2 separate regions of the Homo sapiens genome follow, and region 2 is linked to region 1. The links come from fine-mapping of genetic effects on plasma protein levels. Region 1 holds a variant in brackets. A gene starts in the other region. All regions are shown on their forward strands.

Region 1 (8,000 bases):
GGGGCTTGGTCCTGGGGTTTCATCTCAGGTTGACCCCCGTTAGGAGGAAGTAAGTAGGAAGGAAGGAGATTTCCTGGGTATTAGGGTGTCCTCAAGCCTGCAGCTCTCCTGGGACTGCACAGAGTTTACTGTCGGACATCAGTTCTGATATGGTGCAGCAGACATGGAGCTGGTAAGTGGTTAAGATCAGTCGGACATGACAACCTCCAGTTCTGCAGAAGCCACTTCATTTGCCTGGGGATAAAGCAGGTCCTTGTGAGCTCATCGACATGCATTTGGCAGAAAGTGCGCTGGCTCTGCCAGCTCCCAGTGTGAGCTTCTAGCAAGCCCCTTGTGCCTTAGATGCCCAGGTCTTTTCAGAATAAGCCTGGCTTGTTTTAACTTGATGCAACTTGCTGCTCACAGTCATCTTATTGTTTGCTGATGAATTCAGACCTCCATTCATTTAAATATTTGTCAGTTATCTACCATGTGTCAGGCATTAAATTTAGTGCTGGAGATACTATGGGACATAAGAAGTCCCTGCTTGCTGGGAGTGCGTGGTCTAATTGGTACTTGGGACAGTGTGGTTTAACTGCCACAAAGTTAATAAAGCAGCATGATGTGACAGAGCTGGATGTGGGGGAGTGAGGAAGCTTCTCTGGACTGGGTGGTCTGAACCCCATGCAGGGAGGAAACTGTGGCTGGGAGGAGAGGAGGCCGGAAGAGAGGTCTGGGCTTGGGTCCCAACCACTGATTCCAGATCTCTCAACATTTGTAACACGACCAACTCCTGTTCTTTTTTTTTTTTTTTTTTGAGACAGGCTAGAGTGCAGGGGGACGATCATAGCTTACTGCAGCCTCGATCTCCTGGACTCAGGGGGTCCTCCTGTCTCAGCCTCCCAAGTATCTAGGACTACAGGTGTGTGCCACCACACCCGGCTAATTTTATTTTTATTTTTATAGAGACGGGGCAGAGTCTGCAGTCACATGCCTTGCAAGTAGCAGAGACAGGGTTTAGTCTCGGTAGCCAGTGCCTAGGGCACAGGTCTTGGCCAGAGGAGAGAAGGCTCAGGTGAACCAGTTTCATCTGACCTGCTTGCTAACTCAAACATGGCTGCCCAACTGCGTGGGCTGGCAAGGTATGTGAGGTGGGTAGCTGGGTGGCCCGCCCCTTGCAGGCACTGGGGCAGGATATCAGGGGGTCCAGAAGAGGTTGGGTTTAGGCAGAGTAGAGGTGATTGTGTGGGCCGGGGGAGCAATGTCACCTTGAATGTGTTTCCATACCCAGGGCCCAGATGGCTCAGGAGGAGGGGGATGGGGACGGGGAGAGTGAGGTCTTTTTGACTTTGATGTGCTTTGACTGCACATCAGAGTCAAACGAGTCAGAATAAGCGGGACCCCTCCACAGGCATCTCAGCCCTCCTAATTTAGCCTTTCTGAAGTGGAGCCTTGGGAGCCGATGAAGCTTAATAAACTCTCCTGGTGCTTCCAGTAGGCACTTGAGGGTGGACACCACCGTCTTCAGGTCATAGGAAGTGTGAGCTAGCAGGAATCCTGGAGATTTTCTAGCCCAACAGTGTCCGGTCAAAATAGAATGGGAGCCAGAAATACAAGCCACATGTAATTTTAAATTACTTTTAAAACATTTAAATTTAGCCACGGTTTTAAAAAGTAAAAATAGGTGAAATTCGTTTTAATATTTTAACCCAATATAGCCAAAATCTTGGCATTTCAACATGGGATGAGCATAAAATAATGAAGGTGATATTTTATTCTTTTTTTGGGGTACTAAATCTTTGAAATCCGGTGTGTATTTTCCACTTAAAGCACATGTCAGTGTGGACTGGCCCCATTGCAAATACTCAGTGGCCTGGGACTGGGGTGACCAAGTGGGATGTGGTGGGGCTGGTGCAGTCCACCATTCTCACAGCAGGCATCTGGGGTCAGGGGAGGCAGGGCACTGGCTGTGCTGGAAGCAGGGGATTGGCTGTGCTGGTGGGAAGCCAGATTCCAGCCCCAGACACTGGTACCTTTGGCTTTAGATCCTTGGGGTGGGTGCATTGCTTCTCCTGGGAGGGAGGAGCGCCCGGGAGCCCCTGACCAGGACCTGGGGCAGGTCCACACAGGCCCTGGATTTCTCCTGTATCCTGGGCCTGGCCCTGCTCTCTTGACTCCCACCTCGTCACAGTGGCTTCAGCTTTTTCACCCTGAGAAGGGAATTCAAAGCCTCTGCCCCTCTCAGGCAGGCACCAGGATATGATTTTCTTTTTTCTTTTCTTTTTGTTTGAGACAGGATCTGACTTGGTCTGGAGTGTAGTAGCCTGATCTCAGCTCACTGCAGCCTCCACCTCCCGGGCTCAAGTGATCCTCCCACCTCAGCCTCTGAAGTAATTGGGATTACAAGCACATGCCACCATGCCCGGCTAATTTTTGTATTTTTTATAGAGATGGGGTTTCACCATGATGCCCAGGCTGTTCTTGAACTCCTGAGCTCAAGCAATCTGCCCTCCTCGGCCTCTCAAAGTGCTGGGATTACTGGCATGAGGCACGGGGCCCTGCCCTGGGTATGATTTTCAAGTGGTTGGTGTCTTGTGACTGGCAGCTGATAAACGGGTGATACAATGTTTCTGTACAGGAGTCTGCAGTGCCAGGCTGCAGGGGCGGATGGTGGGGGGTGGGTGGGTAGCCTGTGGAGCCCGAGGGTGGGAACAGAGAGTCTTCTTTTGCTGTAGGTGGAAGCCTGTCTGGCTCCTTTCCCTCTAAGGTCAGACAGCTTGAGAGATGTTTCCATCCTCCCATGCATGACCCTGAGGCAGTTAGCTGGTCAGTTACTCACTGTGCTCTCTGCCAACTCTAATGAGCCAGGAAGCCTCCCCGTGCCCAGGCGTGCTGTGATCACAGTGTTCAATGATGGGGTGAGGCTACAGCGTCCAGCCAGGGGCTGTGCCACAGGGGCCAGAAGATATCTGACCTACTGTCACTGCCTCTTCCACTCTGTTCCACCTGCACTGGGGCAATGCCATCTGATGAACAGATCCATTTATTAATTCAACACGTTTGTATTGAGAGCCTGCTGGGTGCCGGGCACTATTGTCAACATGGGTGATACAGCAGCAAGCAAAACAAGAGAAACATCTTTGCAAGCAGGGGAGGGGGCCTGCAGTGTTGGGTGTGTGGAGTTGTTGCTGGGAAGTAGAGAAGCTGAGTAAAGAGCTGGACGGAGAGAGATAGCCAGGCCCATGTCTACAGAAAAGCATTCTAGACTGAGTGAGCATAAATCGCAAAGGCCCAGAGGAGGGAGCATGCCTAGCTAGCCCCCTAGACCTGGTGAGGCTGGTGTGGGTTGGGCAGTGATACGGTTTGGCTGTGTCCCCACCCAAATCTCATATTGAATTGTAGCTCCCATAATTCCCATGTGTCATGGGAGAGACCTGGTGGGAGATAATTGAATCATGGTGGTGTTCTCCCCCAAGTTGTTCTCCTGGTAGTAAGTGTCAGGTGAGCCGATGGTTTTATGAGGGGTTTCCCTTTTCACGTGGCTGTCCTTCTTTCTTGCCTGCTGCCATGTAAGATATACTTTTTTTCTTCTGCCATGATTGTCAGGCCTCCCCAGCCACGTGGAACTGTGAGTCCATTAAACTTCTTTTTCTTTATTAATTTCCCAGTCTCGTGCATGTCTTTATCAGCAGCACGAAAACAGACTAACGCAGGCAGCCTGTGTTGGGAGGAGTTGGCAAGGAGGGAGGAGGTGCTGGCCAGTAGAGCACATGTGTCTCTGTGC[A/G]TCAGAGCAAGGACCCGGGCTCTCCCCGTGAGTGAGAAGAGTCCATGGGGTTTTGGGGCTGAGGAGGAGTTTTACAGATGACCGGTCTGTTCTTGGCACTTGCAATTAGCGGACCGTCTGTATCCGAGTGTTGATCGGGTGGATTCTAACCCTGTGGGAGAACTCCCCAGCCCGTAGCCTGCGCTCACTGTACCTGGCAGTTGTATTAATGACGTCAAATGCACAGTCCAGCTTGAGTCCCCTCTAGAACGTGGGCAGCGGACACTAAGCCGAGAGGAATCGCTGTGGGTTGGCAGACACTGTGGAGACTGACTCCTGGACAGGCTGTGGAATGTGTGGAAGCAGGTACAGCCCAGGCCCGCGCTGAGGTTCGGCAGGGAAGCCAGAGGAGTCCGCAGCCCGGGAGACCTGGCCTACAGCGGAGAGAGTCAGTCCATGCCAGTGGTGGGATGTGGCTGCAAAAAATGGTCGGATTCATGGAAGTCTGGTGTCCAGCTGGCAGGCATTAGTGGTCCCATGAATACAGCTGTGTGCCTTGAACACGTACTGCAGAGCTTCCAGAGAGCACCAGGGCTGTGGGGGCTAGAGACTGTGTCTCGTGCGGAAGCGTGGCTGAGAAGGGGCTCGACAGGCTCTTCGTCACTGTGCGGAGCCTTCGAAGGACTTGGATGTGCTTGAGACCCCTTCCCCTAATTGCTGTGTAGGGCAGGGGTGGACATCCCGGGGATCGTGGAGTCTAGGGAGCCAGTCTGCACGGGATGGTTTTAGAAGCCGTAGGATGTGGAGGTTCTGGCTGAAGGAGCCAGAATTCCAGTGCCAGCTCCACTCCTCACGAGCTGTACAACCTGGGCCGGTTACTGACCCCTTTCCCACCTTAGTTCCCTGGCTCTACAATGGAGGTAATTATCGTGTTGAACTCACAGGGTCGAGATCATATTTAACACTTTCACAGCCCTTAGAAGTGTCTAGCACAGTGGTCCTCAGCATTTGGAAATGTCTGGAAACACTTTGTCACACCTGAGAAGAGGGATTTCCTACTGGTGTCTAGTAGGTAGAGGCCAGAGATGGCTGCTAAACACCCCATAATACACAAGACAGACCCCGCAACAGTGAACTCTCTGGCCCCTCCAAGTCAGTGGTGCAGAGATTGAGAGATCCTGGTTTCGCGTTTTGAGCGTGCAGTACATTTCAGTTGTTAGTGGAACATGCAATACATCTTTATTCACATGTTATTACTTATTTGTCAGATGTTTGTAAAACATCTGCTACATTCTTGGCAGTTTAATAGAATCTGGAGATACAAAGAAGTTCCTGACCACAGAGGTCATTTAGGCAAGCTAGGAAAGCACAGAATGATATAACACAAAGTTACATTGTACCATAAAGCATATTCTATAGTACACTTAACTCTGGTGGGCTCTTGGTATAAAAATGTCTCCAATCTCAGAGGTCATGGGATAGTGGGCAAGACATGAAAACCTTGTATAATATAAAATTTTGTTACCTCTAAGTGCTGAAATTAAGGTATAAACAACGTCTCATGGGAACCAAAACATCAGTCATTTGGAAGTATAAGTCAAGCCTTCGTAGGAGAGGAACCATTTCAGCCCGATATTACCAGAGTGGGATGGTCCCAGCGAGCGGGATGTGGAGGGTTAGGATGTTATCTTAGTCTGTTTTGTGCTGCCATTACCACCAAGTAGGTAATTTATAAGGAGCAGAAGTTTATTTGGCTCACAGTTCTGGAGGCTCGGATGTCCAAGATCTAGAGGACACATCCGGTGAGGGTCTTCTTGCTGCATTGTCTCATGGTGGATGGAAGAAGGGCAAGGTGGAGAGAGAGAGCAGGAAGGGGCCTAATTGTCCTTTTATAAGGAACCCACTCCTGTAATAATGGCATTAAACCCATTCATGAGAACAGAGCCCTTGACCCATTCATGAGAACAGAGCCCTCATGGCCTACTCTTATGAGACCCCACCTCACAACATTGTTAACATTTAGGATCAAGTTTCTAGCACATGAACTTTGAGGGACACATTCAAACCATAGCATTCTGCCCCAGTCCCCAAAATGGATGTCCTTGTCACATGTAGAATACATTTGCTTCTTACCTATAATCCCAAATTCTTATTTGTTTCAGCACCACATTAAAAGTCCAAAGTCCACAGTCTCATCTAAGTCAGCTGTGGGTAAAACTCAAGGTATGGTTCATCCTGAATCAAATTCCCCTCCAGTCATGGGCTGTGAAATCAAGCAAGTTGTCTGCTTCCAAAGTACAGTGATGGGACAGGCATAGGACAGATATTCCATTCCAAAAGGGAGAGATAGGCAAGAAGAAAGGGGCAACTGGTCCAGACAACTCCAGAACCCAGCAGGGGGAACAATACCAAATCCCAACTTGACAATAATCTTCTTTGACTCCATGTCCTGCCTTCCAGACACACTCGGGTAGGGACTTGGGCCCCCAAGGCCTCCGGCAGCCCTGCTTCCCTGGCCTTGCTGGGCTCATTCCATGCAGCAGCTCTCACCGGTTGGAGTCTCATGCTTGCAGCTCCCCCAGGTTGCTGTTGCACACTGGTAGCTCTGCAGTTCTGGGGTGTCAGGATGGCCTTACTCCCACAGCTCCACTAGGCTTCCTGGGGACTCTCAGCAGCTCAGACTCCACAGTTCTGCTGGGCATTGCCCTACAGGGGCTCCCTGGTGGTGGCTCTGACCCTGCAACCAGTCTCTGCCTGGGTCCCGAGTCTGTCCGCAATATCCTTTGAAATCTAGTTGGAGGGAGCCAGGCCCATAGCCCCTGCATTCTGTACTCTGGTGGCATTAGGACCATGTGGGATGCCACCAAGACTCACCACTTGCACCTTCTAGAATGGTAGGTCAAGCTGCACCTGGGCCCATTTAAGCCATGGCTGGGGAGGCAGAGGAGCACTGTGCCCAAATGTGGGAGCAGAGACTTGAGGTGGCCCTGGACAGTGAGCCACAGGTCCTGAGGGCTCCCAAGACCTGGCTTTTGACATAGTTCCTTCCCTCAGATTTTGGCACTGCCGGAGCTGTGATCACAGGTCATCTCTGCAGTACCTTTGGGATCATTCTTATTTTCTTGATGAATAGCCTCTGGCTTCATTCTTATTGTACTAATCTCCTTATCAAACTGTGGCTCTGGCCAATACTAATCTCCTTATCAAGTGGTCCATACTAATATTCTTATTAAACTATCAAACGGTAACATGCCTGCACCCTTGCTTTCCTCTCCTGAAAGTTCTTTCATTCTCTACTACAGGGCCGGTCTCAGAATCCTTCCAGTCTCTAAGTTCTGTTTCGCTTTTCATTATAAATTTCTTTCTTTCTTTCCTTCTTTTTTTTTTTTTTTTTTTTTGAGATGGAGTCTCACTCTGTTGCCCAGGCTGGAGTTCAGTGGCACGATCTCAGTTTACTGCAACTTCTGTCTCCTGGGTTCAAACCATTCTCCTGCCTTAGCCTCCCTAATAGCTGGGATTTCAGGTGTGTGCCACCACACCCAGCTAATTTTTTTGTATTTTTAGTAGAGATGGGGTTTCATCATGTCAGCCAGGCTGGTCTCGAACTCCTGACCTCAAATGATCCGCCCGCCTCAGCCTCCCAAAGTGCTAGGATTACAGACGTGAGCTACTGCGCCCAACCCTGCTTTTATTTATAAGTTTCATCTTTAAATTATTTATTTCTTCTCAAGTTTTACAGTATACAGTTAAAATAAGTCATACAGCAACCAAAATGCTTTGCTGCTTAGGTATTTCTTCCACCAAATAGCCTAGTTTATCACTCTTAAGTTCTGCCTGCTATACAGTTTGAGGACCTGGACACAATGTAGCCACATTCTTTGCTGCTTTGTAACAAGGATGACTGTTATGCCAGTTTCCAGTACCTTAATCTTCAGATATATCTGAGACCTCATCAGAATGGCCTTCACGATCGATATTTCTACCACCATTCTGATCACAACCACTTAGTCTAAGAAGTTTCAGACTTTCCCTACAGATCTTCTAATCCCGCTTTATTGCCTGCCTGCCTCCCTCCCTCCCTTCCTTCTTTCCTCTCTGCTCTCTCTCTCTTTTCTTCCTTTCCCTCCCCTCCCCTGCTTTCCTCTCCCCTCTCCACTTCTTGGCACCAATTTTCTGTCTTAGTCCATTTTGTGCTGCTGTAACAGAATACCACAGATTGAGTATATTATAATGAATAGAATTTTATTTGGCTCATGGT
Region 2 (8,527 bases), not on the chromosome of region 1:
CTAAGCAACCACTAATCTACTTTCTGTGTCTGTAGATTTCTCTAATTCCCTGGACTTTAAACACTATCTTTATAGAGATACTTTCAAATACATACCCCAGCTCTGACCTCTCACCCTAGCTCCAGGCAGGTATATCACTGCTGGCTGCATTTCCCCACTTGGGGTTCTAGGAGGTATCTTAAACTTAACATGACAAAAGAGAGCTCTTGATTTTTCTCCTCCAAATTAGCTCCTCTTTCAGATTTACCCTACGCTATCAATGGTACCATCATCCACCTGCTGATCAAATAGAAAACCTTGGATCATCCATGATTCCTCCTTTTGGCTCACCCCTCAACTGAGCAAATCCTGTCCTACCTTCAAAACATATGAGCTGAACAGAAAGTCTGAAAAACATAGATTTGAGCCCATTCACATCTCTCTGCCACTAGTGCCTACATTGTACTCCAGGCCACTGTTGTTTCCAGCCAGATGCCCACAATGGCCTCTCTACCCGTGTTCATACCATTCACAATCCATCCTCAACAAGTGGCCACTACATTCTTAAAAACAAGTCATGACAGCTCTCTGAGCTCTCTAGTAGCTTCCTCTTATACCTAAATTCCAACTTATGGTCTTCAGGGCTGCTTGACTCTCCAACCTCCTCATTCATTGCCTCACACTCCATATAGAGTGACTAAATAAGCCTTATACAAGCCAAGCTCCTTCTGACCTCAGGACCTTTGCATATTCAGCTCTTGCGACAAAGTGCTCTTCAAAGCACCCAGATTTCAACAGGGCTGGAAAATGCTCACCATTCAGGGCTCTGCTTGGTGTTGTCTGCTAAGGGAGGTGTTCTCTGACCCCCAGTACTTCAGTAGCTCCCCCACCACCGAGTCGCTTACTAGTTCATGAACACCTCTAGTTATTTGCAATTATTTGAAACAGTTCCTAGTTTCTTATGAACACCTCTTGTTTTCTGCAATTATTTGTCTGGATAATAAGTGTGCCTGTCATCTCCCATAGTGCAGGATTGTGAGTGTTTTTGCTCACTGTCTCCTTAGAGCCTAGAATAGTGCCTGCCCCATAATAGGGGCTCAATGAATTATGTTGAAGCAATGAGTGAATAAAACACAGCACAGACAGTGCCAAGTTTGAACCTTATCTCAGCCACCTGCTAGCTCTGGGACCCCGGACAAGCTCAGAGTCACACTGGGTTTTCAGGTCTCATTATCTTCATCTGTAAAATGGTGACAATAGTGCCACGAATAGTGCCATAAAGGCACTCTGAAAACACTACAGTGCAACATGACCACTGATGGATTATTATCCTTATTATCTCTGATGTTAGTGGAGTGTGGGGCAGGAGGGACTCCCTCCACCCGTCCCAGAGCCACTGCAGCCTGCTCACCTGGAGACACATCCAGCTGGAAGCCCATCAAGGGGTACAGGATCCCAGAGGTGTTGCGCATGCACCAGTATCGGCCTGAGTCCTGGAGCTTGAGGGCCACCATGGTGATGTTGACCACCTTGGCCTGGGCATCGTCCTGCAGCAAGTAGCGGGGCCCTTTCACCCAGACTCGGGCAAAGCCAGGCTCACACTTCTTCTTCCTGATTTTGCACCAAACCTTGCCCTCCACGCGGTTTTTGTAGCCCTTATAGGAGCACTGCACAGACAGAGTCTCCCCTTCAAGGAGCCTCACTTTTGTGTATACACTGTCAGCAGAGGGGCCTGTGGAGACAATACTTATTGAATAAGGTCTGGCAAGAGGAGAGGAAGAAGACATCATGAAAGTTGAAGATCATGGTGAAGGGTAGAGTGGATATTGTCCTGCTGTCACAGAACCCACAGATTGAGGGGGAAATACAGCCCCGCCTTCAGGGAGCTTGCCCCAATCTGAAGGGAGGTGAATGGGCCCTGAAAACAGCTAGCTTCCAGTATTACAGTGGAGACACAACCCCCGCTCTCAGGGAGCTTTCAGTCTGATGGAGGAGGCAGGTATATCCCTCAGTGAGTCCCCAGTCTAATGGAGGAAACGCAGCATTTACACTCGGAGCTCCATCAGACACAGCCCCTTTCCTCATGGTATTTTCTAGTCTGATGGGAAAGTGACAAGCTCTGTCTTCAGGGATTCCCAGGGAATTCATTTTTGTTTTGTTTTGTTTTGTTTTGTTTTGTTTTTGAGACGGAGTCTCGCTCTGTTGCCCAGGCTGGAGTGCAGTGGCACGATCTCAGCTCACTGTAACCTCCGCCTCCTGGGTTCAAACTATTCTCCTGCCTCAGCCTCCTGAGTAGCTGGGACTACAGGTGCCTGCCACCACGTCCGGCTAATTTTTTGTATTTTTAGTAGAGACGGGATTTCACCATGTTAGCCAGGATGGTCTCAATCTCTTGACTTCGTGATCCACCTGCCTCGGCCTCCCAAAGTGCTGGGATTGCAGGCGTGAGCCACTGTGCCCGGCATCCCAGGGAATTCTTGTGGGAAAAACCCAGGTCATGCCCTCAGTGAGACAGATGCAGAGACACAAACACAGGTCATTAAGTTGTGAAATTTCAGTGCCCAACTAACTAGGTAGATAAGAAAATCTAGTATTTGAAAATATGATTAACAGTTATTTATTTCACAAATAGGTTCACTTAGTCCTCTTTAAATAATAACTCTCCTTAGTTCATTCCATCTGGTGTTTAGTTTTAAAATATTCTAGTTACATAAAACCCATAGATCAAGCCTGTCTAAATATACATGTAAACAAACTCCCAATGGAGTGTGAACCACAGGATTCTACAATTATTCACTTTCCACCTGCAATATCTTTCTCTCTATGCTGAGGAGTAAGATGTGGTCCAAGCCTTCATAATCCACAGTCTGGTAGAGACAGAGCAGAACTGGGGTGTGCAGGGTGACTCAGGGGACAGAGAGAGGGAGAAAGCTGCCTTGGGCTCCCTCCACCCCTCTGCCTGCCTTAAGCTCAGCTGACTCTTCTGATAATTTCACCCCAGAGTCTTCCAAAAAAACCACATATAAAAAGACTCTCCCCCATAGTAGAGAACAGAGAGCACACATTTTGGAGTCAAAATAAACAAGGGTTGAAACCCTGTTTCTACCACTTAGTGGTGTGATTAGGTCACCTGTTTGATACAGAAATATCAAAACAGACACTTGACTGATACAGAAATATCTCTGTTTCTTTATCAGTCAAGTGAGAATAGCACCACACCCCTCACAGGTTGCTGTGAGAATTCTGCCCCAGGTCAGTGCTTTGCACACAGTGCATGCTCAACTCATGCTTCCTTTTCCCACATGCTGGGGCCTCCCAGTTCCCCCAATGGAACCCAGAGCTGTGACAGTCAAGGGCCCAGAATCCAGGACATCTGTCCCACCAGAATCCAGGATATCCGTCCCAAGTCCCAGCCAGCAGCCACTAGAGCTGAGGCTCTGTGTGAAGCAGCACCCTCTCTAAGCATCCCTCTGTCCCTTGCAAACTAAACAGAATGATCCAACTTCATTATTTGGTGGATGAGCCCAGGATTTCTTAGCACAAGAGAGACCCCTTTCTGCCCTGGCAGTGGGAAGCTGTTTCTCTACCCTCTGGGAGGTGCAGAGTTGGGTGACCTTGGGATGGGTCTCCAGGGCAATGTCTTCATGTGTGCCTACACCTCCCACCCCTCTCACAGGCAGTGGTGAGTTTTGCCAACCCCCACCATGCCCAGAACTGAACAGGAAGTGGTAACTTGGTTGCCATGGCAGCGAGAGGGGCAGGAATGGGTGAGGTTCCTCAAGGAGCATTGGTATCTGTGAGGTGGGAAAGGCATTCACACACTGGTCCCTTCAGGACAGAGGCAGGGACAGGATGTGGCATCAGCATTTCAAGAAAAATGTTCAAATTCAGTTCAAAACACACATGATGCAATGATTGCTGTCATAACTAAGCAGGGCTTCCTGACAGAGGCCAAGCAGAGAAAGCTATTTGTGTGAGGAAATTGAGGGCTCTGCTTTAAAGCCTGAGGAAGCCTAGCAGATAAAGGAGCCAATGCAGAGAGGGTCCAGAGCTTTATCTTGGCTTGGGAGGCCTGGGTTAGCTTCGCCTGGGGCCTGATATTAGGGTAAAGAGCTAAGTCAGCCCTAATCTCCTCCTTCCCCAACCCACAAAACACTAAACAAGAAAACTGCTGGTAAGGAGGGTAAGAAAAAGGCCCTGAGCTCCTGCCTCTGTACCCACTCCCTCCTCCACAAGTCAGCCCCTTCTCCCCTCACCTGAGACGCAACCCTGTGGCCACAGCAGCAGCAGCAGCAGGAAGGCTGGGGCCATGGTTCCATCCAGCTGGGCAGTGTCAGGCCTGGAGATCCAAGGTGAGGGCCCACCCGACACAGGATGTGCCACCTGGGCCTGCCAGGGAAGGACCCGGGGTTCTAAAAGTGAAGCTGCCCATTTAGGGAAGTGAGGCAGTGTGGGACCCACTGCCCCCAGCCAACCGCAGGGATTCATTGAGCCTATTATGAGGGCGGTGCTGGCAGCTGTTTCCGCCCTTTTCCTCGGAACTTCAGGCAGGTGTGGCTGCTCCACCCAGTCTGGGGCCCCAAGCCGGGAGGACTCACAGTCAGAGGGCTCCCCGCCCTCCCCAACCTCCCCCAGAAACTGGTCCCTAGGATCCAGCAAGGGGGCTGGGGTGAGGCTTCTGGAACGTCAGGTATAGACCTTCCTGGAATCTTCTGGGCTCAGAGACCCAGGGGTGCGGGCTCTTAGGCTGAGATGGAGCATCTCAGACCCTAGTTTCTTACATATATACATTCACAGGGAAGTTCTTATAAACTCTCATTCATTCATTCATTGCAGATTCTTTCTGTTCCTTCCTCTCTCTCTCTCCCAGGCTCCTGGCTGCTCAGAACAGTCACTTGTGTTCACTGTTGCAAATAACCTCTTACAGGCTCACTTGAAATCTTACTTTTGTCAAGCGGGAAAAATGCAAATTGTTAAGACTCAGGGCATAAATTTTGGGTTGAGGGAGGGGTTCCTGTACTCTCACACACAGGTGTGCATGCACATGCACTCACACTCACAGTCTCACTTTGTCTTTTATTCACTTTCACACACACACACACACGCCCATGCACACAGTCTCACACACACCCCAGCAGCCTCTCCTTTTCCCTATCCATACGTCTCCTCTCTCTGTCCCTCTCCCTGCCTCTCCTCCTGTCGACTCTACTCACCATCAGCTCCCTCTAGACTCCTAGTCCCTCGTGCAGGCTTCCTACAGCCTCCGCAGTACTTCCCCTCACCCACCTCATCTCAAGACCCCCTTCCTCCCCTGCCTCCAGCCTACGTCAGCACGCAGGCAAGTGCCCTCCACTTCCTCCTGCTCAATGCTATCTCGCCTGTACAGCCACCAGCTCCAGTGGAAATGACCCAGCACTAGGCCCAAGACCACACCCTTCACTTACCCCAAGGCCTAGAATCAGAAGCATCAATTTTTGATGTCCGGTACCTGTGTCATCTGCTCCTTCAGTGTGTGGGGACCCAGCTGGACTCCCGTGATTATGTATGCTCCCCCTACTCACTAGTGCCATGTTTCTACTCCTTAGATGGGACTGTCAAAAGGTAAACTGAGGCACAATAAAATTTTAAACAGATTATTTCAGCAAACAACAATTCATGAATCAGGCAGCTCCAAACAGAAGAGGTTGAGGAGCTCCACTGGGGGAATGCAAGGGGAAGACTCCTACAGGACAAGTAAACTGAAGAAAATATTTAATTAGTTATAGTTATATAGTTCCCTTATTTGGCCTATCCTGTTGGAAAGACCCTAGTTAATTATATAAGTTTCTTTTGATTGGTTGAGCTTAAGTTCTATTTTTCCTTAATATACACATTTACAAGAAATAGCTCGTGTTAAGTTTCACTGATATTTGCAAATCAAGCAAAGTTGAGGTCACTTATGAGGCCTAACTGTTTTTTTAATTTTTGCTCAGGGACTCTTCAGGCCTGGTCTCCATTTTCATTAATTTTAACAGGACTCAGAGCAAAAAGTCCTCAAGCTTGCATGGCCACAATCTTAAATTGACCTTGAAGCCCCAAGCTCCAAGCAAAGAAGTCTATCTCGGCTGACCCTAAGCTTTTGTAGTCTCTCAACTCATTCACTCACTCATTAATTCATTCATTCATTTGTTCATTCCCACAACCTCATTGCTATGCATGGGGCTAGGTAGGCACTGGGGGCGTAGGAATGAGACACGATTGTCACTTGAGACCTCTCAGCTCACAGACGTGTTTTGTTTTCCTTATTCACCCTTCCTTTTTCAATGTTTCTCACCCAGTCCTCAGAACTTCCTGAGCTCCCTGAGTTCAGGGGCCATCTCCCCTCCCCAGCACACACAGTAAGTTCCTCCATCCCTTCCCCCATCAGAACAGTAAGTTGCTTCAGGAGTGGGGGATTTATCTCTTGTGGGGACTTTATGCGCTTGGAATCCATGATTCTATGAAACTGATACAGTGCGCCCAGCACTGAGCCAATCATCGTCTAAAGTGTGACCCTTGGGATCACTGTGCTGATGAGGGTAGAAAGAATCAAACATTCATTCGCTGATCGAGGAAGTATGCACTGGATTCAATCTTTCTTAAGAGAAATTTGGAAGCATTGGTCAAAATCATTAAAAATACGTATACATTAGACTTTTACATCTATCATTTGATTTAATACAGCAGTGTATTTTGTCTTTATATTTATTTTTCCCATTTAAAAATTAAGGCCTAATTTACATACAGTACTATTCACCCTTTTCAGTGACGAGTTCTGGGAGTTCTAGAGACTTGTATCCAATGCCGTAATGGAGACAGAGAAGAGTGCCATCATCCCGAAAAGCTTTCCTCTGCTCCTTGTTAGTCATCCCTTCAGTCCCAGACAAACACTGATCTGGTGGGGTTTTTTCCTGTCATTTCTCTCTTTCCAGAATGGAAAAGTGAAGCACTTTATGTTGATTTATTCTGGTGAAGTCCAATATATAATTTTTATGAATCAATTTTTATGTCATATCTAATAAATCTTTGCTTAACCCAAGGTCACAATGACTTTTTTCAACAATTCTGTGAGCTATAATTCACATAATATAAAACTGACCCATCTAAAGCATACAATTCAGTGGTTTTCAATATATTCACTGAGTTGTACAACTAACACCAATTTTGCAGGATTTCCCCACCCAAAGAAACCCCATGCCCGTTAGCAGGCACTCCCTGGATCCGTTTACTGCAGACTTGGTGGCTTAAAACAGTATTAAGTTATTGTCTCGCCATTCTGAAGGCAGAAGTCTGAAGTCAGTTCACACTGTATTGAGATGAAGATGTCGACAGGGCTGCAGTCTCTCCAGAGACACTAGGGAAAAATTTGTTCCTTGCCTTTCCAGCTTCAGGTAGCTGCCAGCATTCTTTGGTTTGGGGCTGTTTTACTCCAATCTTCAAGGCCAGCATCTTCAGTCTCCCTCTGCTCCATCTTCCCATCACTTTCTCCTCTTTGTGTTCAAATCCCACTCTGACTCTCTTACATAAGGATACATGTGATTGCATTTAGTTCCCATCTACGTAATCCAGGATAATCTCACCATCTCAAGATGTTTAACTCACTCATATCAGCAAAGATCATTTTTTTTTTGTTTTTTGCCATATAAGGGTAACAATCACAGGTTCCAGGGATTAGGACACAGATATCTTTTAAGAGACCATTTATCAGCTTACCACAGTCCCCATTCCTACAGTCCCAGGCAACCACTAATATTTTTGTCTTTCTAGACAAAAATATCTTCAATCAAAAATGCCTTTATCAATTCTGGATATGTCATAAAAACATAATTGAACAATATGTGTTCCTTGTGACTGGATTCTTTCATTTGGCATGTTTTCCAGGTTTGTCCATGTTGTAGCTGTACTTGTGCTATACGTTGTATTAATACATCATTCCTTTTAAAGGCTGAATAATATTCCACTGAATGGATATATATGTTTACCATTTATCAGTTGACAAATATTTTATTTGTTTCCACTGTTCAACTATTATAAGCAGTGTTACTATGACTATTCATGTACAAGTTTTTGTGTGGACATACGTTTTCATTTCTCTTGAGTACATAACCAATAGTAGAACTACTGGGTCATATGGCAACTCTATGTTTAACATTTTCAGGAACTACCAATAGTTTTCCAAAGTGGCTGCAAATTTTACACCCTCTCCAGCAATGTATGAGTTCTCATTTCTCTACAATCTCTCCAATACTTGTATTGGCTTTCTGTTTACAGCCATCCAGTGAATGTACTTAAGTTTTGAATTGTAGTTACCTAATGACTAATGATATTGAGCATCTTCATCTTGAGCATGCACAATTTGCTCATTTGTATACCCTTGGAAAAATATTTATTCAATTGTGTTGTTTGTCTTTTACAGCATTTGAACAATGTTGTGCCACATTTTTCTGGCTTCAATTGTTTCAGATAAGAAATTCACTACAATTAGAATTGGTATTCCTTTATAGATAATTATTTCTCTCTGGCCATTTTT

Which allele goes with the higher level. Alleles are on the strand shown, and positions count from the first base shown. The strength of an association depends on the size of the effect and on how common the allele is.
In carriers of allele G in region 1, the plasma level of the protein whose gene starts at base 4,431 in region 2 tends to be lower than with A alone (weak association).

What was found. PIP is the posterior inclusion probability: the model's chance that the variant is causal. Protein levels are from antibody-based Olink assays in UK Biobank. Linkage for the fine-mapping came from a reference panel and not from the study's own genotypes, which makes the PIPs less certain.
Region 2: TREML2 starts here. The variant in region 1 is fine-mapped to the plasma level of the TREML2 protein (UK Biobank, PIP above 0.99).

What each region holds. Positions count from the first base shown.
Region 1 is chr11:126,392,183-126,400,182 of GRCh38, forward strand. All of the region lies in intron 1 of ST3GAL4 (ST3 beta-galactoside alpha-2,3-sialyltransferase 4), which reads left to right. Among named protein-coding and RNA genes, the nearest start is that of ST3GAL4, 40 kb to the left of the region's middle. RefSeq lists an enhancer at 1,546-2,473. The variant A/G (reference allele first, on the strand shown) is at 3,764.
Region 2 is chr6:41,196,719-41,205,245 of GRCh38, forward strand. It overlaps TREML2 (triggering receptor expressed on myeloid cells like 2), which reads right to left and starts at 4,431. Exons shown (of 5, transcript NM_024807.4): 1 at 4,236-4,431; 2 at 1,391-1,711. The coding sequence starts at 4,290. RefSeq lists an enhancer at 4,650-4,719.